2 separate regions of the Homo sapiens genome follow, and region 1 is linked to region 2. The links come from fine-mapping of genetic effects on plasma protein levels. A gene starts in region 2. The other region holds a variant in brackets. All regions are shown on one strand. Distances are between the middles of the regions. Region 1 has its middle 9.0 kb from the start of TM4SF5. Region 2 holds the start of CXCL16 (C-X-C motif chemokine ligand 16).

What was found. PIP is the chance, under the fine-mapping model, that this variant and not a neighbour inherited with it causes the effect. Protein levels are from antibody-based Olink assays in UK Biobank. Linkage for the fine-mapping came from a reference panel and not from the study's own genotypes, which makes the PIPs less certain.
Region 1: its variant is fine-mapped to the plasma level of the CXCL16 protein (UK Biobank, PIP above 0.99).

Annotation. Positions count from the first base shown.
Region 1 is chr17:4,755,341-4,770,499 of GRCh38, reverse strand. No RefSeq gene overlaps it. Among named protein-coding and RNA genes, the nearest start is that of TM4SF5, 9.0 kb to the left of the region's middle. RefSeq lists a silencer at 6,274-6,436. The variant T/C (reference allele first, on the strand shown) is at 772.
Region 2 is chr17:4,734,614-4,743,157 of GRCh38, reverse strand. It overlaps CXCL16 (C-X-C motif chemokine ligand 16), which reads left to right and starts at 3,230. Exons shown (of 6, transcript NM_001386809.1): 1 at 3,230-3,897; 2 at 4,238-4,376; 3 at 4,668-4,750; 4 at 7,650-8,066; 5 at 8,506-8,544. The coding sequence starts at 3,819. It overlaps ZMYND15 (zinc finger MYND-type containing 15), which reads right to left and starts at 3,325. Exons shown (of 14, transcript NM_001136046.3): 1 at 3,108-3,325; 2 at 2,018-2,639; 3 at 1,342-1,576; 4 at 1,088-1,243; 5 at 667-827. The coding sequence starts at 2,609. RefSeq lists a silencer at 3,139-3,358 and enhancers at 2,907-3,811, 3,812-4,717.

The sequences.
Region 1 (15,159 bases), 24 kb before region 2:
AAGTGCTGGGATTACAAGCATGAGCCAAGCCACCCAGTCGACTTCTTTTTTTTTTAATTAAAAAAATGTTTTTGAGACCAGGGTCTCCCTTTGTTGCCCAGGCTGGTGTGGAGTGGATCATGGCTCCCTGCAGCCCTGACCACCTGGGCTCAAGTGATCCTCCCACCTCAGCCTCCCGAGTAGCTAGGACTATAGGTGTGTGCCACCACACCTGGCTAATGGTTTTTTGTTGTTTTTTTTTTGAGATGGAGTCTTGCTCTGTCACCCAGGCTGGAGTTTAGTGGTGTGATCTCGGCTCACTGCAACCTCTGCCTCCTGGGTCTCAGAAGCAAACAGGAGAGTGAAGGCCCCCACAGAATGAGCCCTAGCTCAAGTAGGATGTGGGAGTGCCATGAAGAGATGAGGGTAGCAGGAAGGGCTGCAGGGCTTCAGAGGGTATGCAATGAGGCTGTCACCTGGAAAGTGTCACCAGCCAGTGGCCCCTGATGCAGCCCCTCCTTGCGGCCCACTCAGACCACTACAGAAATGTGGAAAATGGAGAAAAGCCAGAATCTCTGCTATTTATAAGACAGAGGAACTGGATTGAGAAAAATACATGGAGAATTTACCTCTTGAATCAGAGGATGCCTGAAAAAGAAAATACTTTGAACCTCCCCAACTATTTGTCTCTGACTCATAGGTAATTATGATGACTGATACATTTGGTTTTGCTTCTGTTGGCATGTTTAATGCTTTAAACAACATTTCCATATTGCTTCTGATGTTTTCTGT[T/C]CCTCTTCTTTTTTGTTTTTTGAGACAGAGTTTTGCTCTTGTTGCCCAGGCTGGAGTGCAGTGGTGCGATCATGGCTCACTGCAACCTCCACCTCCCAAGTTCAAGCAATTCTCCTGCCTCAGCCTCCCGAGTAGCTGGGATTATAGGCATGCGACACCACGCCCAGCTAATTTTGTATTTTTAGTAGAGACGGGGTTTCTCCATGTTGGCCAGGCTAGTCTCGAACTCCCGACCTCAGATGATCCCCGCCTCGGCCTCCGAAAACGCTGGGATTACAGGCATGAACCACTGCGCCCAGCCTCTGTCCCTTTTCTTTAAAGATTTTACATTATCCTTTTTTTTTTTTTTTTGAGACAGGGTCTCTGTCACTCAGACTAGAGTGCCATGGTAAGATAATCATGGCTCGCTGCAGCTATGACCTCCTAGCTCAAGCTGTCTTCCCACTTCAGCTTCCTTAGTAGCCAGGATTACAGGCCCACACCACCACACTCAACTAATTTAAAAAATTTCTTTTGGCCGGGCGCAGTAGCTCACGCCTGTAATCCCAGCACTTTGGGAGGACAAGGTGGGCAGATCATGAGGTCAGGAGATCGAGACCATCCTGGCTACCGTGGTGAAACCCTGTCTCTACTAAAAATACAAAAAAAATTAGCTGGGTGTGGTGGCAGGCACCTGTAATCCCAGCTAGTCGGGAGGCTGAGGCAGGAGAATTGCTTGAACCCGGGAGATGGAGGTTGCAGTGAGCCGAGATTGCACCACTGGACTCCAGCCTGGGTGACAGAGGAAGACTCCATCTAGAAAAAAAAAAAAAAGATACAAGGAAAAGGGTCACATTGGATCCCACCCTAGATCACCTGACCCCCAGCCAACTCCTATGTGTGTATCAGTGAAATAAATGCTTATATTTATTTGACACTAAGACTTCGTCGAGGGGGATGGTTTGTTGCCCAGTAACAAGTTCCTAACACAGACCCCCTTATCTAGGCCAGGGCTGGTTGATTGAGGAACAAGTAGCTGACCCAAAGGCAGACATGTAGCCAGCGACCTGTGAGGTCTCTCGAGGTGAGAACTCCATCCAACAGAGGTACACTGACTGGATAATGACCAATCCACCGACTGGATCTTCATGATTGGGAAATGTGTCTGTGAGACAAGCTGAGACAGTCATCAGAGAGTGGGGTGGCTTCAAACTGAGAGTTGTATGCAAGAAAGAAGCAATCAAAAGCCAGAGGCAACTGACACCAGAAATAAGCAGAAGTCACAGCAAGAGAAGTGTATGGAGAATAGTTACTCTGAAACAGCGCCAGAGGGAGAAGCACAGGCACTGGAAAACTCTGGTTCCTCAGGAGGTGGCCGATGAGAGGTTGTCACCAGCACTAATGTTGAACTACCAGAGCAACTGTCATATCCCGAATAGTGGCCCTTCCAACCGTGGACCTGAAGAGGGGATTCAGCCATTGATCTGATGGACAGAGAGCAGGGCCAAGAGCTGGCCACCTATTTGTCTACAAGTTGCTCAAGCTGATTCTGAGAGATGGTGCCTCTTTTTTATTTTTTTTTAAACAGAGTTTCACTCTTATTGCCCAGGCTGCAGTGCAGTGGCGTGATCTCGGCTCACCGCCACCTCCGCCTCCCGGGTTCAGGAGACTCAAGTAGTTGGGATTACAGGTGCCCGCCACCACGCTTGGCTCATTTTTGTATTTTTTGTGGAGATGAAGACAGGGTTTCTCCATGTTGGCCAGGCTGCTCTCGAACTCCTGATCTCAGGTGATCCACCCACCTCGGTCTCCCAAAATGCTGGGATTACAGGTGTGAGCCACTGCGGCCAGCCAAATGGTGTCTGTTTTGAGGATGAATAAAGAGAAAAAAAATAGTTGTGTGGGTGGGGTGGTCCACAGGCATTCATTACATTATTTTTATACAATTCTGGATGAATGAAATAATGTTAATAATGTTAACAAAACATTATAGGGATTCTGAAAAATTTTCTCAAAACCAGGGAAGGGCAAATCAACCTGAAGACTGAAAGAAACAGAATCCTCTGGAGGAACATTTACTATAGGATTTGGAAGAGATTTCCAGGAAGATTTTTGATGACATCACTAGAATTCTCCTGGAACTAGGAACAGAATAACTTAAGAAAGAAAAGGCTGGCCGGGCGCGGTGGCTCACGCCTGTAATCCCAGCACTTTGGGAGGCCAAGCTCGGTGAATCACCTGAGGTCAGGAGTTTGAGACCAGCCTGGCCAACATGGCGAAACCCCATCTTCACAAAAAATACAAAAATTAGACAAGTGTGATGGCAGGCACCTGTAATCCCAGCTACTCAGGAGGCTGAGGCAGGAGAATCGCTTGAACCCGGGAGGTGGGGGTTGCAGTGAGCCGAGATCGCACCATTGCACCCCAGTATGGGCAACAGAGCAAGACTCCATCTCAAAAAAAAAAAAAAAAAAAAGGTCCAGGCTCAGTGGGTCACGCTTGTAATCCCAGCACTTTGGGAGGCCGAGGCGGGCAGATCACCTGAGGTCAGGAATTCGAGACCAGCCTGACCAACATGGGGAAACCCCGTCTCTACTAAAAATACAAAAATTAGCTGGGCATGGTGGCGGGTGCCTGTAATCCCCGCTACTCAGGAGGTTTAGGCAGGAGAATCGCTTGAACCCGGGAGGTGGAGATTGCAGTGAGCCAAGATCACGCCATTGCGCTTCAGCCTGGGTGACAGAGTGAGACTCTGGCTCAAAAAAAAAAAAAAAAAAATTCAGGAAACTGGCTTCTCCTAAGAACAAGAATAGAACTGGTGGAAGTGACACCACAGTTAAAACATCTGCACTAGGAGAAGACGTCACTGAGCGCAGATAGATCCACTCAGGTCAGTGGGTTGAAAGTTATACTGCACGGCAGGTAAAATATTAAAAGTCAGCTGACCATAGATTCATCCTGACAAAATATCTGAATTAAAGGATACATCTAGGCAGAATTTAAAAAGGCTACTTAGAAAGAAACAATAGTTGGTGTGGCCAGAGTCTTCTCTGAAATACTGAATGTCAGAGGACAAAGGAGTAAGGCAGCTGTGTCCACCAAAAAAGGTAGAACTATCATATACATGTCTAAGTTGCATTTTGTATGTTAAGGGCAACACAATTGCATTTCTGAGAATGTTTGGATTTCAAAATAACACTTTGGCTCCTTTTTTTTAGAGAAATTGTGTTGACTCACCAAGAGATGAAGTAAAATAAAAACCCCAAAATGGGGAAGTCTTGACGTAAGTCTAAATAAATTTCATATATCTGGTTACAAAACTGGATGCACATTTTGGAAAAAAATATTTTTCTTCTCTTTTGTTTTGAGTCAGAGTCTTGCTCTGTCATGCAGGCTGGAGTGCAGTGGCGTCATCTTGACTCTGCAACCTCAGCCTTCTGAGTTCAAGCGATTCTCCTGCCTTAGCCCCCCAAGTAGCTGGGATTACAAGCATGGGCCACCAGGCCTGGCTAATTTTTATATTTTTAGTAGAGACTAAGTTTCACCATGTTGGAGGGTGGTCTTGAACTCCTGACCTCAAGTGATCCACCTGTCTTGGCCTCCCAAAGTGCTGGGATTACAGGTATGAGCCACCACAACCCGGCCAGAGCCATTGTGCCCAGTCTCATTTTTTTTTAAAGACAGTGTCTCACTCTGTTGTCCAGACTGGTGTGCAGTGGCATGATCTTGGCTCACTGCAAACTCTATCTCCTGGGCTCAAGTGATCGTCCTGCCTCAGCCTGCCAAGTAACTGGGACTACAGATGTTCACCACCCACCATGCTTGTCTAATCTTTTTGTGTGTATATATGTAAATATATATATATATATTTTTTTTGAGACAGAGTTTCACTCTTGTTGCCCAGGCTGGAGTGCAATGGCGCAATCTCAGCTTACTGCAACTTCTGCCTCCCAGGTTCAAGCGATTCTCCTGCCTCAGCCTCCCTAGTAGCTAGGATTACAGGCATGTGCCACCACGCCCGGCTAATTTTGTATTTTTAGTAGAGACAGGGTTTCTCCATGTTGGTCAGGCTGGTCTCAAACTCCCGACCTCAGGTGATCCGCCCACTTCGGCCTCCGAAAGTGCTGGGATTACAAGTGTGAGCCACCGAGCCCAGCCATCATTTTGTATTTTTTGTAGAAATGGGGTTTCATTTTGTTGCCCAAGTGGTCTTGAACTCCTGGGCTCAAGAAATCTGCACACATAGGCTTCCCAAAGTGTTGGGATTACAGGCGTGAGCCACTGCACCTAGCCCCGTAAAAATTTCTTTTGAAGTGGCCGGGCGTGGTGGCTCACGCCTGTAATCCCAGCACTTTGGGAGGCCGAGGTAGGCGGCTCACCTGAGGTCGGGAGTTTGAGACCAGCCGGACCCACATGGAGAAACCCCATCTCTACTAAAAATACAAAATTAGCTGGACTTGGTAGCGCATGCCTGTAATCCCAGCTACTTGGGAAGGCTGAGGCAGGAGAATCGCTTGAACCTGGGAGGTGGAGATTGCAGTGAGCCAAGATCGCGCCATTGCACTCCAGCCTGGGCAAGAGCAAAACTCTGTCTCAAAAAAAAAAAAAAAAAAAAAAATTCTTTTAAAGGGCAGCTGTATAATGTAAATTCTAAAAATGATATTAATACTATTAAATATGTCATTATTGCTTGCCATACTCTGGGTCCATTGTAAGGAACTATACCAGGTAACAGAAAACCCAACTCTATTGCAACAAAAAGGGAATTTATTGGTTCAAGCAATCAAAACATCCAGTAGGACTGAAGTAGGACTAACTGCAGGTGCAGTTTGGTCCAGAAGTTCAGGATGTCATCAGTGTTCTTGTTTCTCTGCCATTCTCTCTGCTGTTCCTTTTTTTGGCTTTGACTTCCTCCTTAAGTGGGATCTTCCTCCTGACAGTAGTATTAGCTGCAGCAGTTCAGACCTTATGTCTTTACACCCTACCACCAGGAGGAAGAGAATCTCCTCGCATAGCTTTCCCTGAGTAGAGAGGAAGTTTCTTTCCCATTTACCCCAGAAAATTTCTCCTTGGTGCAGACTGGGTTCTATGTCTGTCCCTTACACGGATCACTGTGGCCAGAGGGTAGAACATGCTGTATGAGTCTGTTCTCACGCTGCTAATAAAGACATACCCGAGACTGGTACTTTATAGAGGAAAGAGGTTTAATTGACTCACAGTTTAGCATGGCTGGGGAGGCCTTAGGAAACTTACAATCATGGCGGAAGGGGAAGCAAACATGTCCTTCTTCACATGGAGGCATTCCAGCACAGGGGGTGTTGTCAATTCTGTCTAAGCCACCAGGCTGGGAAATTAAGGGCAGTATTAGGAAGGAGGAAAGACAGAATGAATGATGGGGAGGCATCCAGCGAATATCCTCTCCAGGGAATCTGTCTAAACTCTGTGGCTCCGTACTCACTGCCCATAGCTGAGTAGCACATGCTTGACCTAGTATGTGACAGAGATAGTGAGTTAGTCCCAGTCTTCTGCTTTTATTATAGTAGCAGACTTTGTAGTCTGCTGCTAAAGGCACATGGCTGCTAAGCTAGAGACTATATTTTCGGCCAAGCCCGGTGGCTCACGCCTGTAATCCCAGCACTTCGGGAGGCTGAGGCGGGTGGATCACCTGAGGTCAGGAGTTTGAGACCAGCCTGGCCAACATGGTGAAACCTCATCTCTACTAAAAATACAAAAATTAGCCAGGCGTGGTGTCTCACGTCTGTAATCCCAGCACTTTGGGAGGCCAAGGCAGGTGGATCACCTGAGGTTGGGAGTTTGAGGCCAGCCTGACCAATATGGAGAAACCCCATCTCTATAAAAATACAAAATTAGCCGGGCGTAGTGGCACATGCCTGTAATCCCAGCTACTCCGGAGGCTGAGGCAGGAGAATCGCTTGAACCTGGGAGGCGGAGGTTGCAATGAGCTGAGATCATGCCACTGCATGCACTCTAGCCTGGGCGACAGAGCGAGACCCCGTGTCAAAACAACAACAACAACAAAAAAACCCTATTTTTTCTAACTTCTTTTGTAGCTGTGGCCATGCGTTGTCACATAGTTATGGCTTATGGGAAGGAGTGTAAATGATTTGATCAACTTTGTTTCCTTTTTGTGAGAATGCTGCTAGTTGATCTTACCTTACTGCAATGTTGGTTTTAAGGCATAATGCAGATGTTTTCTGTAAGTTTTATGAGATCCCCACAACAAAGTATTCAATTTATTTATAATTTCAGCTTTTATTTTAGATTTGGGGGTACATGTGCAGGTTTGTCATAAGGGTATATTGTGTGATGTTGAGGTTTAGGAACATGATTAATCCTGTCACCCAGGTACTGAGCATAGGACCCAGTAGTTTTTTTGGTTTTTTGTTTTTTTGAGACAGCGTCTCACTTTGTCACCCAGGCTGGAGTGCAGTGGCACGATCTCGGCTCACTGCAACCTCGGCCTCCTGGGTTCAAGCGATTCTCCTGCCTCAGCCTCCCAAGTAGCTGAGATTACAGGCGCATGCCACCACATCTGACTAATTTTGGTATTTTTAGTAGAGATGGCGTTTCACCATGTTGACTAGGCTGGTCTCAAACTCCTGACCTCAGGTGATCCACCCGCCTCAGCCTCCCAAAGTGCTGGGATTACAGGCATGAGCCACCGCACCCGGCCAGAACCCAGTAGTTTTTTCAACCCTTTCCCCACTCTCTCCCTTCCCCTCTGGAGGCCCCAGTGTCAATTGTTTACATCCTTATGTCCATGTGCACCCAGTGCTTAGCTCCCACTTGTAAGTGAGAACATGCAATATTTGGTTTTCAGTTCGTGTGTTAATTGGCTTAGAATAATGGCCTCCAGCTGTATCCATATTGCTGCAAAGGACATGAATTTGTTCTTTTTTAATGGCTGCAACAATCAACTTTGGTGGTAGACTTTAAGGAATGAGCTTCCCTTTCCTCATCCTGCTGGCTGGAATGTAGGCCAGGAGTTGAACCGTTTGGACTCTTTGGTGAGGACAACCCTTAGAGATGGTGGAACAACAATATCAGGATTCTGGGCTCCCGAACAACCTAGAAGAGCAGGAGTGCCGCTGTGGGCCACCTGCCTCCTTACTATTTATTTATTTATTTATTTTGTGAGACGGAGTCTCGCTCTGTTGCCCAGGCTGGAGTGCAGTGGTGCGACCTTGGCTCACTGCAATCTCTGCCTCCTGGGTTCAAGCAATTCTCCTGCCTCAGCCTCCCAACTAGCTGGGATTGCAGGTGGGCACCACCACACCTGGCTAATTTGTGTATTTTTAGTAGAGACGGGGTTTCACCATGTTGGCCAGGCTGGTCTCGAACTCCTGACCTCAAATGACCCACTCCCCTCGGCCTCCCAAAAAGTGCTGGGATTACAGGCGTGAAGCACCGGGCCCGGCAGCCTCGTTACTATTTTGTGAGCAAGAAATAAACTTCTACTCTATTTGAGACATTGGTAATTTCAGTCTTCGTTTAAAGCAGTGGAAGTTACCAGAAATTTGTAAACTGTACCATAAGCTGAGTGTCCAGGCCAATTAGATTTGCTTTCTCCTAGGATATAAACTGGGAAAAATGGAAAATTTTCCAGTGGTTTCTAGACTTTAAATTGGTTATGAGAATACTGTGAAATTGAGTCAGTGACGTTTATTTCTTTTCTTTTCTTTTTTTTTTTTTGAGACAGAGTCTCACTCCCAGGCTGGAGTGCAGTGGTGCAATCTGGGCTCACTGCAACCTCCACCTCCCGAATTCAAGTGATTCTCCTGCCTCAGCCTCCCAAGTAGCTGGGATTACAGGCGCGCATCACCAAGCCCAGCTAATTTTTTGTATTTTTAGTAGAGATGGGGTTTCATCGTGTTGGTCAGGCTGGTCTCGAACTCCTGACCTCAGGTGATACACCCACCTCGGTCTCCCAAAGTGTTGTGATTACAGGTGTGAGCCACCTGCTTGGCCTATTTGTTAAATATTTAGCATATTTCAAATTTTTTTTTTGATACAGAATCTTACTCTGTCACGCAGGCTATAGTACAGCAGTGGTGTGATCTTGGCTCACTAAAACCTCAGCCTCCTGAGTAGTTGGGACTACAGCCATGTGTCACCACGCCTGGCTAATTTTTTGTATTTTTAGTAGAGATGGGGTTTCACCATGTTGGCCAGGCTGGTCTCGAACTTCTGGCCTCCAGTGATCTGCCCGCCTCGGCCTCCCAAAGTGCTGGGATTACAGGTGTGAGCCACTGCACCTGGCCAATCAATTCTAAGTCACGTGTTTTAGCACATTTTATTTTTCCCAAAATTAGGATATATTGTACAATCCATGGTGTCATACAACATGGTAGGTTTTGCCTACACTTGTGAGAACCCAGTCGTAGCTGTTCGTATTGTTATCACCTCAGCTGAGTTGTGAACCCTACTGGTACTACACTTCTTGAGTTGAATTGCTGTTTATAATGTCTTCAAATAACACACAGTACCAATTACATTAGCACTGTCCCAAATTAAATACTTACATATAAATCTAACAAAATACGTATAAGATCTACATGAAGAAAACTACAAAACTCTGATGAAAGACATCGAAGAAGATATAAATAAATGGAGAGAGTCCATGTTCATATATAGGAACACTCAACATTGTCAAGATGTCAGTTCTTTCCAAATTGATCTGTATCTTCAACACAATCCCAATCAAAATGCCAGAAAACCATTTCATGGATATTTACAAACTGATTCTAAAGTTTGTCTGGAGGGGCGAAAGACCCAGAATAGCCAACACAATATTGAAAGAGAGCAAAGTTGGAAGATTGACACGACCCAGCATCAAGACTTACTACAAAGCTCCAGTAGGGCTGGGCATGGTGGCTCATGCCTGTAATCCTAGTGCTTTGGGAGGGTGAAGCGGGAGGATTGCTTGAGGGCAGGAGTTGCAAGTTACAGTGAGCTGTGATTGTGCCACTGCACTCCAACCTGGGTGACAGAGCAAGACCCTGTCTCTAACAAAAACAAACAAAAGGCCAGGTGTGGTGGCTCACACCTGTAATCCCAGCACTTTAGGAGGCTGAGGTGGGTAGATCCCTTGAGCCCAAGAGTTCAACACTAGCCTGGACAACATGGTGAAACCCTGTCTCTATTAAAAAAAATAAATAAATAATAATAATAATAATAAACCAAAACCGCCGGGCGTGGTGGCTCACGCCTGTAATCCCAGCACTTTGGGAGGCTGAGGGTGGTGGATCACCTGAGGTCAGGAGTTCGAGACCAGCCTCAACATGGAGAAACCCAGACTCTACTAAAAATACAAAATTAGCTGGGCATGGTGGTGCATGCCTGTAATCCCAGATACTTGGGAGGCTGGGGCAGGAGAATCACTTGAACCTGGGAGGCGGAGGTTGTGGTGAGCCAAGATCTTGCCATTGCACTCCAGCCTGGGCAACAAGAGCGAAAGAAACTCCATCTTAAGGGAGAAAAAAAAAAAAAAGTAAAAGGCTACAAGTATATGACTTTCTGGAAAAAAACAGAACTCTGAAGACAGTGAAAAGGTCAGTGGCAGCCAGGGGTTGGTAGGGAGGGGAAGGAGGAATAAACAGAGCACAGAGGATTTTAGGGCAGTGAAACTTCTTTGTATGATACTATATATATACTGGTGCGTCATTATATATTTGTCTAAACCCATGGAACGTGCAACACCAAGAGCGAATCCTAATGTACACTATGCGATGGACTTTGGCTGATAATGACGTGTCAATGTAGTTCACTGATTGGAACAAATCTATCACTCTGGTGCCGGATGTTGATAGTGGGGGAGGCTGTGCATGTGTGGGGGTAGGAGTATAAGAAAACACTATACTTTCGGCTAGGCACAGTGGCTCATGCCTGTAATCCCAGCACTTTGAGAGGCCGAGGCGGGCGGATCACTTCAGGTCAGGAGTTCAAGGCCAGCCTGGGCAACATGGTGAAACCCCATCTCTACTAAAACTACAAAAAAAAAAAAAAAAAAAAAAAAAGAAGAAGAAGAAAAGAAAACTCTGTACTTTCTGCTCAATTTTGCTGTGAACCTAAAACTGCTTTTAAAAAATAAAGGCTATTCAGCCGGGTGCGGTGGCTCATGCCTGTAATCCCAGCACTTTGGGAGGCCGGGGCGGGCAGATCACTTGAGGTCAGGAGTTTGAGACCAGGCTGCACAACATGGCGAAACCTCATCTCTACTACAAATACAAAAATTAGCCAGGCATGGTGACGTACACCTGTAATCCCAGTTACTCCGGAGGTTGAGGCAGGAGAATTGCTTGAACCCAGGAGGCGGAGGTTGCAGTGAGCCGAGATAACACCACTGCACTCCAGCCTCGGTGACAGCAAGCGTGTCTCTAAATAAATAAATAAATAAATAAATAAATAAATGCTATTAAGAAAAAAAATCTTCAAAAAGATAACATGCTTTAAAACAGAAATCAAAAGGAAATGATGTATTAAGCATAGAAATAAAGTAGTGGAGCGAAAATTTGTTAGTGAAGACATCAATTTTGTTGACACTATTTGGTAAAACAAGAATGTGTCACTAGCTTAGAAGAAAATCTCGGAGACAGTAGTGGAGCACTTTTTAAAGAAATTCCGCTTCTCCAATGCCCTCGACAGTAGAGGGGACAGCAACACAGGCACTGATAGAAAGTGATTCAGAAGAGTCAGACTTTAAAGATTTTTTTGGAATATTTTAACCATATTATTTTTGTTTTTGTGTACGCACCAGAATTAGATTTTTTAATGGTCTGAAAGAGACTTCAATTAGCATAAAATAAAAATTGAAGTGTTAAGAAAGCATTGTATCATGGTTTGGCCGGGTGCTGTGGCTCACACCTGCAATCCCAGCACTTTGGGAGGCCGAGGCAGATGGATCACTTGAGGTCAGGAGTTTGAGACCAGCCGGACCAACATGGTGAAATGTCATCTCTCCTAAAAATACAAAAATTAGCCGGGCATGGTGGTGCACGCCTATAGTCCCAGCCACTCAGGAGACTGAGGCAGGAGGATCGCTTGAACCTAGGAGACAGAGGCTGTAGTGAGCCAAGATGATGCCACTGCACTCCAGCCTGGGCGACAGAGCCAGACTCTGTCTCAAAATAAACAAACAAACAAACAAACAAAAGCATGATGTATAACACTTGAAAGTATTTAAGTCAGTGAAATGCAGGATCGAGTACCCTCTGTGTAATGTGCCTAGTTGTGGACCCAGTGGATACAGCACTAAACTTGACAGATGAGGTACCTCTTCGTAGTTTATATTATAGTTTGGGGAGACAGGCAGTAAACTAGAAATTAGAGGTTATGCTAAATTACATGAAGGAAATAGGGTGGTGTGGTAGAGAGTGACTGGGAGGCAGCTACTGGGAGGCAGCTACTCAAGATTTGCTGGTCAGGGAATCGGAACTACCCTTAGACCTGGACAGGAGGGGCTCTTACTTGGCTGTCTGCTTAGTTCAGTACTTCTCAAACCGTAACTTCATACAGATTTCCTGAAGATGGTGTTAAAAGCAGATTCCGGGCTAGGCACGGTGGCTCATGCCTATAATGCCAGCACTTTGGGAGGCCGAGGCGGGAGGATCACCTGAGGTGGGATTGTAGAGGAGAGCAGTGGAGGGAGGGAGACCAGGAATGAGAGTGATGCTTTTCTGAGGACCCATGAATTGCCACTGAAGGTGTTTGGCAATGTGACCTGGGGAGGAGTGGGGGTTGAATGCTCTCTGAGCAAGGCAAGGCCAGAGTTATCAGCTCCTGAGAACTAAGATCGACGTGAGGACCAGATGGAGTCATTAGAAGGGAAACCATCTCAGATGATGAAGATTGTTTGAAATCAGATTTTTCCATAGAAACCCTGCAAATATAGCCCTTTGACATTTCTCTCTTCTTCCTTCTCCTAGCTCAGACTCCTGGAGATCAGGAGACCAGAACTTGTTCACCCTCCTCTACAGTGAGCAGACACTGACATGCCAGAAAAAAAAAAATGCATTTGGCTGTAATATTTGCAAGACCCAAGAAGGTACTGGGAATAAATTTATTTCCATAGAGGAAGTGGTTGGTGTTTTATGAGAAAGGGCACTCAGTCTCAAAAAAAAAAAAAAAAAAAAAGAAAAGAAAAAAAACCCCAAATAGTTAGAAATGCCGAGGGAGACTGTCAGAAATATAATAGTAGTGGGAAACTGTAATATAATTCTCTTCGACAAAGTAAGAAAAATATACAAACGTATAAAGAAACAGAGAATCTCAATGATAAAGTTGATTGATTAGTTAGCCTCTCATTCAACAAATATTTACTAAATGATATGTGCCAGGCCCTTTGCTGGATACCAGGAAGATATCAGCCATAAATACATCATCGGTGAACATCCTGAGCCTCCATCCTCCTGGAGCATGTATTCAAGTGCTATTTACTTGACTTTGTATCTCATAAATGGAGAACCTACCTTTTTCAATGCCAATAAAACATTTACAAATCTTGGTCAAATATTAGGCCGTGAAGGAGATATGAAATTCCCCAAACTTGAAATTGTACTGGACTGATACCCAGACCATAATGCAATAAACCAGAAATTTCTAAATGTTTAAGTAACAGCGACCTCTTAAAAAATCCCAAAATAGTTCTAATCAGTGAGAATATTCAAATTGCAAGTACAGATGATTATAAACAGACAATGAGATGAGGCTTGGTAGCTGATGCCTGTAATCCCAGAATTTTGGGAGGCCAAGGCAGAAGGGTTGCTTGAGGCCAGGAGTTCAAGACCAGCTTGGGCAACGCAGTGAGATCCCTGTCTCTCCAAAAAATTTTTACTTAAATTAGCCTGGCATGGTGACACACACCTGTAGTCCCAGCTACTCGGAAGGCTGAGGCAGGAGTATTGCTTGAGCCTAGGAGGTTGAGGCTGCAGTGAGCCAAGGTCACACTATGGGGCACAAATAATAACAGATTTTTAGGAGTGTGTTGCTGTTGTTGTTTTTTAAGAGACAGCATCTCGCTATGTTGCCCAGACTGGTCTTGAACTCCTGGCCTCAAGCAATCCTCCTGCCACAGCCTCCCAACATGCTGGGTTTACAGGCATGAGCCACTGCGCCCAGCCATGTTATTATTTGATAATGAACTAAGCTTGGTGTTAGGGGCTTCTCATACTTTGTTGTATATAATCCTCACAACTAACCTAGGGTAGCACCCTGCAGCTGAGTAGGCACTCAGTAAGTATTTGCTGAATGAGTGGATGTAGCTCCGAGTGAAAGTAAGTTGCCTGGCCAGGTGTGGTGGCTCGCACCTGTAATCCCAGCACTTTGGGAAGCACAGACGGGGAGGATCCCTTGAGCTAAGGAGTTCAAGACCAGCCTGGGCAACATAGGGAGACCTCTGTATTTTTTTTTTTTTAAGAGACAAAAAAAGGCCACCACACCCGACCTTTTTTTTTTTTTTTTTTTAAATAAAGTGACTTGCCTAAGACTACACAGCAGAAGTTAGTCAAGCTGGGGCTTACACTTAGGAGGCCTCTGCTTAGTTCTGTGCTTGTAACTGCGATGCTACTCGATCAACGTGGTTGTTGAAACATGCAGACAGGAAGAGCTAATGATTTAAGATGGCTTTAACCAAAACCTTTTTTTTTTTTTTTTTTTGAGACGGAGTTTCTCTCTTGTTGCCCAAGCTAGAGTGCAATGGTGCGATCTCGGCTCACTGCAGCCTCTGCCTCAGGGATTCAAGCGATTCTCCTGCCTCAGTCTCCTGAGTAGCTGGGATTACAGGCATGCACCACCATGCCTACCTAATTTTATATTTTTAGTGGAGACAGGGTTTCTCCATGTTGGTCAGGCTGGTCTCGAACTCCTGACCTCAGGGGATCCGCCTGCCTCTGCCTCCCAAAGTGCTAGGATTACAGGTGTGAGCCACCTCATCCGGCCATCAAAACCATTTTTCTGAGGCTTTTTGCTTACTTGTTTGTTACTTCTTTCTCTCTTCCCTCTCTCCTTTTCTTTCTTTCACACCAGAAAGATGTATATGGAGTACTCACTTGATACCGGGCATTGTTCCACATACTGGGGATTCAGGTGGGAGAGGTAGGCAATAGACAAGTAAACCAGCCAGGCGTGGTGGCTCACGCCTGGAATCCCAGCACTTTGGGAGGCCAAGGCGGGTGGATCACCTTAGCTCAGGAGTTTAAGACCAGCCTGGACAACATGGTGAAACCTCGTCTCTACTAAAAATACAAAAATTAGCCAGGCGCAGTGGCGTGTGCCTATAGTCTCAGCTGCTCGACCTTGTCTCAAAGAAACAAAACAAACAAAAAAACTGAGTAAGGGGAGATGTGACGACAGGAGGAAGGTGACAGACAGTGGAAATGTGGAATGGTACAT
Region 2 (8,544 bases):
AAACGATTCTCCCACCTCAGTCTCCCGAGAATTGTGACCACAAGCGAGTGCACCATGCCTGACTAATTTTTTCTATTTTTTGTAGAGACAGAGTCTATGTTGCCCAGGCTGATCTCAAATTCCTGGGCTCAAGTTGGCCTCCCAAAGTGCTGGGATTACGGGTGTGAACCATTGCCCGGCCTAGAACCCCAGCCTTGAACTCTCCCTAGCCTCCCGCGAGGACCCTGGTTCTAAGTCTGGTTCCAGTCAGGCCGGGAACTACCATTTCTGAGTGCCTCCAGCGTACCAGGCACCAAGCCAAGATAATCCTTGTAACAATTCCATGGGCCTTCTCCGTATCCCTCATGAGGACACGGAAGCTTCAAGAAGTAAAGTGGTTTGTTTAAGGTCACACTGCAGTTAGTGGTGGAGCTGGGAAGCAAGTAAGTGTTTGAATCCCTGTCCCCCAATCCCTGCACGCTCTCAGGGACCCAGACACTCAGGCCTCGGCTTCAGAGACCCTGTCTCCAGCCCCAAACACCCAGCCCCTGCCCTTGTTCCAGGGATCTAGGCTCTAGCCCCAGACACTCAGCCTTCAACTGCAGGACCCTGTTCCCAGACATCTAATTCCCAGTCTCAAAGACCTGGTCCCAGTTTCCCCCAACCATTCTGACCTCCTTATGGTACCTGCGGTGTAGGTAAAAGGCAGGGTTGCCAGTTCTCCTGCCCGCTCCATGAAGGCTGCAAGCCTTGGGCACCAAAATCGGTGACTCACATCATCTGGGCACCGCTGCCAGTCAGCCCGGAGACAAGCCTCTCCACAATACAAGACAGCACTACACTGGGGGCTGGGGACACAGCGGGTGGTGGGCACCTAGTGTTAACCTCTGTAGGTCCTGTCTGCTGTTCAACTGCCCAGCAGCTGCCCATATGTCACTCGGTCTGTTTGTCTTACACCCTCTAACCGCCTGTAACAGTCTGTATTGTTTCCTCTGCATCTTCTCATGTCCCTGCCTCTCCTTCTGTCTGCTAGGCGCCCCCCACCACCCTGCCTTCCTTCTATTTGCCTATTGGGGTCTTCCTCTCCCCCAGCTTTGGGGCTGCTCACCAAGGTGTCAGCTTCGCTTCAAAGCTGTGCCTGTGACACACATGGCAGGTTCGAGCACGAAGGGAAGCAAAGGTGAAGCCTGGCCGGGGACCCCATGTCCGCATTGGGGTTTTGGCTAACTTCACACCTAGCCTTGGGACCAAGCTCTCCAGCTCTCTAAATGCAGTTGGGGGGGAGATGGCATCAGGCTGGAGGAGGTGCTTGGGAATCCAGGGCCCGAGTCCTCCCCAGCCTCAGATACCAGATTTCTATACCGATGCAGCCGGGCATCTCCCACAGTAAGCTGTCGGGGCTTTCGGGGATCCCCAGAGCCCATGGGACAGGCCATGCTGTGACAGAGGAGAGCATAGGCCCAAGGAGCCAGGTCCTTGGTCCCTGAGCCCCAGCTTGCGGTTCCCTGGGCTCCATCCACTAGCAGATCAATGCCCAAGATGGTGCCATGCTCATCCGTCACAAGTAAGAGACAGGAAACGTGCAGGGGGGCAGCCTCTGGGGAAAGAGGGAAAAGTTGAGGTGGTAGGGGGCAGCGAGAGACAAATGTGGTCAGGGTCAGGAGTACCAAACTCAAATACCTACGGGGCTAGGCAAGTAACCTCACTGAGTAAAGGGCTCTGGGTAGAGAGGGCACGCTCCTTCTAAAGGGGACAGCTGCTACAGAGGACCAGAATGCGCTGCCATGCAGAAATGTAGGCCCACTGTCAGAGCTTGAGATTTTTCTTGGGAATGTGTAAATCCAGACTTCTGGATACTTTTTTTCTTGCAATGTTTAAACATTAAATTAAAAAAAAAAACCCCACTGTGGGTCAATAAAAACACCTTTTCAGGCCAGATTGGCCTGAAGGCCAGCACTCAGAACTAGTGGCAGGGGAGGGCTTCCGAAGGGAGGATGGCTGGGCAAGGGGTAGGGCAGGGCCAGCCCTGGGTTCTTACCACTCCTCTGTCCCTTCCTCTTCTGGGGTCTTGTTTCGTTCTCCACCCTGTCCTCTCGGCAGCCATCCTTGCCACCTCCTGCCTCCCGGGCAGCCTCCTCTGACTCTCCTGGAGGGTTTGTTTCCTGGGGGGACTCCCTGCTGGTAGGGGCTAGCTCCCGGTCCTCCTCTGGTTCCACCTTCTCTGTGCTGCCTGCACCCCCGTCCTCTCTCTTCTCTTCTTCTTCATCTTCCTCCTCTTCCTCCTCCCCTTCCTCCCCATCCTCTAGGCTGACAAAGCTGATGTAGGGGCTCAGGTCTCGCAGGTGGAGTGGAGGGTTGTCTCCCAGGAGCCAGGCAGTCCCCAGGCCTGGTCCAGGACCTGGTTCTGCCCCTTGCCCCAGGCTGATGCCCACACTATGGTTGGGCAGGACATGGAGCACCCAAAGGGCAGGGTCCTGGGGTAGCCTTCTGATCTGGGCCTCCAGCTGCCGGCAGCGGCCCTCAAGGCTAGTCCCTACAGCTCCACGCTCTGCCACAAACTTTCGGAACCAGCCGAAGAGAAGGGCAGTGAAATCAAGGAACTCATCCCGGTATCCAGACACAAACTCCATGTCTTCAGCGGCACAGGGCCCCGGCCCAGACTGAGCAAAAGAAGGGATATATGGTGAGGGACAGGAGAGCAATGATGGAGTTTGGGGCTGGGTCACAAATTGAGGGAGAGGGTAGGTTTGAGAGTCACTTAGGGTTGGATCCGTGGATATGCTAGGAGCGGAGAAGAGGATTTTTCAGGGCTGAGGATGGGAGTTTAGGGAGGAAAATGGGGGCTGGACTTGAAAGTGGGTGACCAGGGTTGGAGAAGACTACTCAGGGATGAGATGGTATTTGGGGCTTAAAATTGGAGAGTTCACACCCTCAAAAGCAGAGTTTAAATTAAGGCTAGAGAGGAGAGAGGGCTAATCCTATCGGGAACGGTTTGGTGGGGAGGGAAGCATTTTGGATGCGTCTGTGGGGTATGGGAGTGGGAGCGAGGGGGTTCCCTGGGCTCGGATCTGCGTGGCGGGCAGCCCCGGTAGACCTAGCCCCTCCCGGCCGCCCCACTCCTCCGGTACCTGCAGCCGCCACCACTTTTCGAAGGTAAATACCTCGCGGTGGAGGGTGCGCGGGTGCGGTTGTGACGTCAGGGCTGCCCGAGCCCTCGCCGGCTCAGCGGGCGGCCACGCCCCCCGGGCTCGGTGCGTCCGCGGGTGGCTGCCCCGCAGGTGCGCGCGGCCGGGGCTGGCGGCGACTCTCTCCACCGGGCCGCCCGGGAGGCTCATGCAGCGCGGCTGGGTCCCGCGGCGCCCGGATCGGGGAAGTGAAAGTGCCTCGGAGGAGGAGGGCCGGTCCGGCAGTGCAGCCGCCTCACAGGTCGGCGGACGGGCCAGGCGGGCGGCCTCCTGAACCGAACCGAATCGGCTCCTCGGGCCGTCGTCCTCCCGCCCCTCCTCGCCCGCCGCCGGAGTTTTCTTTCGGTTTCTTCCAAGATTCCTGGCCTTCCCTCGACGGAGCCGGGCCCAGTGCGGGGGCGCAGGGCGCGGGAGCTCCACCTCCTCGGCTTTCCCTGCGTCCAGAGGCTGGCATGGCGCGGGCCGAGTACTGAGCGCACGGTCGGGGCACAGCAGGGCCGGGGGGTGCAGCTGGCTCGCGCCTCCTCTCCGGCCGCCGTCTCCTCCGGTCCCCGGCGAAAGCCATTGAGACACCAGCTGGACGTCACGCGCCGGAGCATGTCTGGGAGTCAGAGCGAGGTGGCTCCATCCCCGCAGAGTCCGCGGAGCCCCGAGATGGGACGGGACTTGCGGCCCGGGTCCCGCGTGCTCCTGCTCCTGCTTCTGCTCCTGCTGGTGTACCTGACTCAGCCAGGTTAGCCGGGGGCGGGGCAGGGGACCCAGATTCCCCTGTCACGGGAAGGGGGTGAGTTGGGGAGGGGACACGAGGCCCACGGAGTTGAGTGGATGAAGGCAGCGGGGACAAGAGGAAAGCCAGCCAGCCGCCTGGGGTTGGGGACAGAGGCCCGGGGACGCCTGGCTCCGGGCGGGATTATGGATGTTGTCGGGGGCGTGATGATGTGTGGGTTGAGCCTGGCGCTCTGACCCTGGGTCCACCGAGAGGCTGTCATGGGGCTGTGGATTGGATGCCAGGGAACAGCGGAGTGGGGACCCTGGGCCTGGGAATGGGTGCCGACCACCTCCGTCCCGCGCAGGCAATGGCAACGAGGGCAGCGTCACTGGAAGTTGTTATTGTGGTAAAAGAATTTCTTCCGACTCCCCGCCATCGGTTCAGTTCATGAATCGTCTCCGGAAACACCTGAGAGCTTACCATCGGTGTCTATACTACACGAGGTAATTTTACCTGCCTCTGCGAGGGCAGCGCCTGGGCGGCCCCTCCTTGCAGGTGCCTCCAGGACCCTCTCTGGTCCAGCCTGAACTCCTTCCCGGCTCACCGAGCCCCATCTCCGGGTTCCGTTTGCTCTCATTCCCCGAAACTTCATGACTCCGTCTCACCTACTGGGGAGTTTCCCAGTCCCAGGAGAAAGGGCTCTTTCTTGGTGGCAACTTCACGCCTCTGGAATGAGGAAGGAGCCGGGGAAGGAAAGAAGGCGCCGCAGCTAAGCCCAGGTCTCTCCTCCGCAGGTTCCAGCTCCTTTCCTGGAGCGTGTGTGGGGGCAACAAGGACCCATGGGTTCAGGAATTGATGAGCTGTCTTGATCTCAAAGGTGAGACTTTTCCACTGCTCTTCAGGCTCTGCCTCCAGGGCTTAGCAGCTTCCACCTGACAGTTTTCTTTACCTGAGCCTTTTCCCCTGGGGCCGCACATTCCTAGAACCTTCTTCTGATCCTGTCCAAAGTACTTAGACTCGAGTCCCTGTTTGCCAAACGGGGTGATCATTCACCATCACCTTCATGAGTTTTGCCAATTCATTCTACCACGTGTGCTATTGTCTACTTATTAATATTTTTCTTGAAATCAAAGTACTATTTTATTTTATTTTTTTGAGATGGAGTCTCACTCTGTCACCCAGGCTGGAGTGCAGTGGCACGATCTTGGCTCACTGCAACCTCTGCCTCCCAGGTTCAAGAGATTCTCCTGCCTCAGCCTCCTGAGTAGCTGGGATTACAGGCGCGCACCACCAAGCCTGGCTAATTTTTGTATTTTTAGTAGAGACAGGGTTTCACCATGTTGGCCAGGCTGGTCTCGAACTCCTGGCCTTGTGATCCACCCGCCTCGGCCTCCAAAAGTGCTAGGATTACAGGCGTGAGCCACCACACCTGGCCTATTTTTCTTTTCCAATATTTTATTATGAAAATTTACACATATACAAAAGTTGAAAGAATGGCACACTGAATATCCAGTGCCTCCACCTAGATTCTACAATTTTATTTATATATGTATATTTTACATATTTACATAAACATATATTTTACACTATCAATTTTACAGCAATTACACGATATTTGCTTTATTAAGTATCCATCTATTCATTCTTCTATCCATCATCCATCACCTTATTTCTTGATGCATTTCTTTTTTTTTTTTTTTTTTTTTTTTAATGGAGTCTTGCTCTGTCGCCCAGGCTGGAGTGCAATGGTGCCCTCAGCTCACTGCAGCCTCCGCCTCCCAGGTTCAAGCAATTCTCCTGCCACAGCCTTCCGAGTAGCTGGGATTGCAGGTGCCCGCCACCATGCCCAGCTAATTTTTGTATTTTTTTAGTAGAGATGGGGTTTCACCGTGTTGGTCAGGCTGGTCTCAAACTCCTGACCTCAGGTGATCCACCTGCCTCAGCCTCCCAAAGTGCTGGGATTACAGGTGTGAACCGCAGTGCCCGGCCTCTTGATGCATTTCAAGGCAGATTGTGGACATCATTGCACTTCATCCCAAGACATTTCAGCATGTATATTAAGTAGAGTTCAATATTTTAATGCTTTTTTTTCTTTTGAGTTCAAATTTACATACAATGAAATGAATTACTTTTAAGTGTGCACAAACTAGTTTTGAAAACTTAAGTAGAGGCCAGGACGGTGGCTCACTCCTGTAATCCTAGCTCTTTGGGAGGTTGAGGCCGGTGGATCACCTGAGGTCAGGAGTTTGAGACCAGCCTGACCAACATGGTAAAACCCCATCTCTACTAAAAATACAAAATTAGCCAGGCATGGTGGCATGTGCCTGTAATTCCAGCTACTCAGGAGGTTGAGGCAGGAGAATCACTTGAACCTGGAGGCGGAGGTTGCAGTGAGCCGAGATCAGGCCATTGCACTCCAGCCTGGGCAACAAAAAAAAAGAAAGAAAACTTAAATAGTAAATTATCCTAAGCAATAATATCTGTGAAGTCACAAGTTTGATGCATTGGTTATATTTTTCTCTTAAAATAAATATACAACCATTAAAATACAAAAGGTTCTTCCATGTCCTAGCTAAAGTTTTGTAGGATCTGTGTCATCCATACTGCCTTTAAGTCTGCCTAGACCTCTATGATTTCCTTTCATCCTCCCAGGAACCCTGGCCCTTGGTACTACAATTATCCTCATTTTACAGCTGGAAGATATCACTTCCGGAGAGGTTAGGGACAAGGGGTGAGGTTACACAGCTACTTGAGGTTACACAGCTACTTTACAGCAGAGCTTGGAATCCAACCCTGGTCTTCTGATTTCCCAGTTCATGACACCCACTTGTCTCGTGGTTCGCTCACTTCCTTGTCCCCTACCTTTTCCGTCTGTCATCTGCCTTCCTCTTCTGGCCTTCAGCGTGATAACCTCCCTGACTCACTCTTCCCTCTGTTGGAGCTCAGAACATGACACTCCAAAACATGGCACCTTGGTAATTACGAAAACAGCAGAAGTAAGTAGCTCACTCTGCTCTGTTTTTCTGTGAGAGCTGGCCATAAAGGAATTCTCTAACTTCACGTGGAAGTAGGTCATAGGCTCTCATTTCAGATGGGTCCTGCCCTATACTTGGAGGCCAAGAAGAATCTGGACAGGCCTTGCTGGTCCCCCACCCCCCATTTATTGCCATTAGATCATACCCTTTTTGTCCAATCATACTTCTTTTTTTTTTTTGAGATGGAGTTTCGCTCTTGTTGCCCAGGCTGGAATGCAGTTGTGCAATCTTGGCTCACTGCAACCTCCACCTCCTGGGTTCAGGCGATTCTGCCTCAGCCTCCCATGTAGCTGGGATTACAGGCACATGACACCATGCCTGGCTAATTTTGTATTTTTAGTAGAGACTGGGTTTCTCCATGTTGGTCAGACTGGTCTCGAACTCCCGACCTCAGGTGATCCACCCACCTCAGCCTCCCAAAGTGCTGGGATTACAGGCGTGAACCACCGCGCCCGGCCAATCCAATCATACGTCTATACAGCTGTCCATTCTTCACAGCAAGCCTAAGCATAAAAATGCACTTTTCTCGGGTCTTTGTTTCTGAAGGTTCCTATGTCATGTAAAACTGTGATTAAATAAATGTTAGGCTTTTCTCTTGTTAATGTTTTTTATTTATAGGGGTATCAGCCTTGACCCTTGCGATGGGTGAGGAAAAGATATTACTTTTTCTCCCCTACACCTCTATCTGCTTTTTCACCTTGTCTCCTGATAGTCCTGATTCCTCATTTCTTTCCTTTCCAGAATGTGGACATGCTTACTCGGGGATTGTGGCCCACCAGAAGCATTTACTTCCTACCAGCCCCCCAATTTCTCAGGCCTCAGAGGGGGCATCTTCAGATATCCACACCCCTGCCCAGATGCTCCTGTCCACCTTGCAGTCCACTCAGCGCCCCACCCTCCCAGTAGGATCACTGTCCTCGGACAAAGAGCTCACTCGTCCCAATGAAACCACCATTCACACTGCGGGCCACAGTCTGGCAGCTGGGCCTGAGGCTGGGGAGAACCAGAAGCAGCCGGAAAAAAATGCTGGTCCCACAGCCAGGACATCAGCCACAGTGCCAGTCCTGTGCCTCCTGGCCATCATCTTCATCCTCACCGCAGCCCTTTCCTATGTGCTGTGCAAGAGGAGGAGGGGGCAGTCACCGCAGTCCTCTCCAGGTAAACTGGACCTTTGAACCCTCCCCCCAGGGACCCAGAGCCTTCCTGACAGGCATCCTGACCCAGTGGCTCTCAGGTGGCTGGAAACCTGGCCTTGGCACACAAGTATCAAGGTTGTCTGCACAAGGTTGACTCTGGGCCCTCTGAGGACAGTCAGTCGGGGACTGTAGACAGTGGAGAGGGAAGGAAGCCACCACAGGCACAAGGACTAGTGCTTGGAGCAACATCATGGAGAAGATGGCTAGAGCAAGCTAGTGGGAGATGAAGCTGTGGAGGGAGGTGAGGGCCAGTCATTCAATTCACAAATTTTCACTGAGCACCTACTGTGGGCCAGGTCATAGTGTTGATGTCTTCATCTGATTCCCTAGTTCAAGCTATCATCCCCCAAACACTGTCCTTGATCTCAGAGCTCATCTCTCAATTTCTTTATCCTTTCCAGATCTGCCGGTTCATTATATACCTGTGGCACCTGACTCTA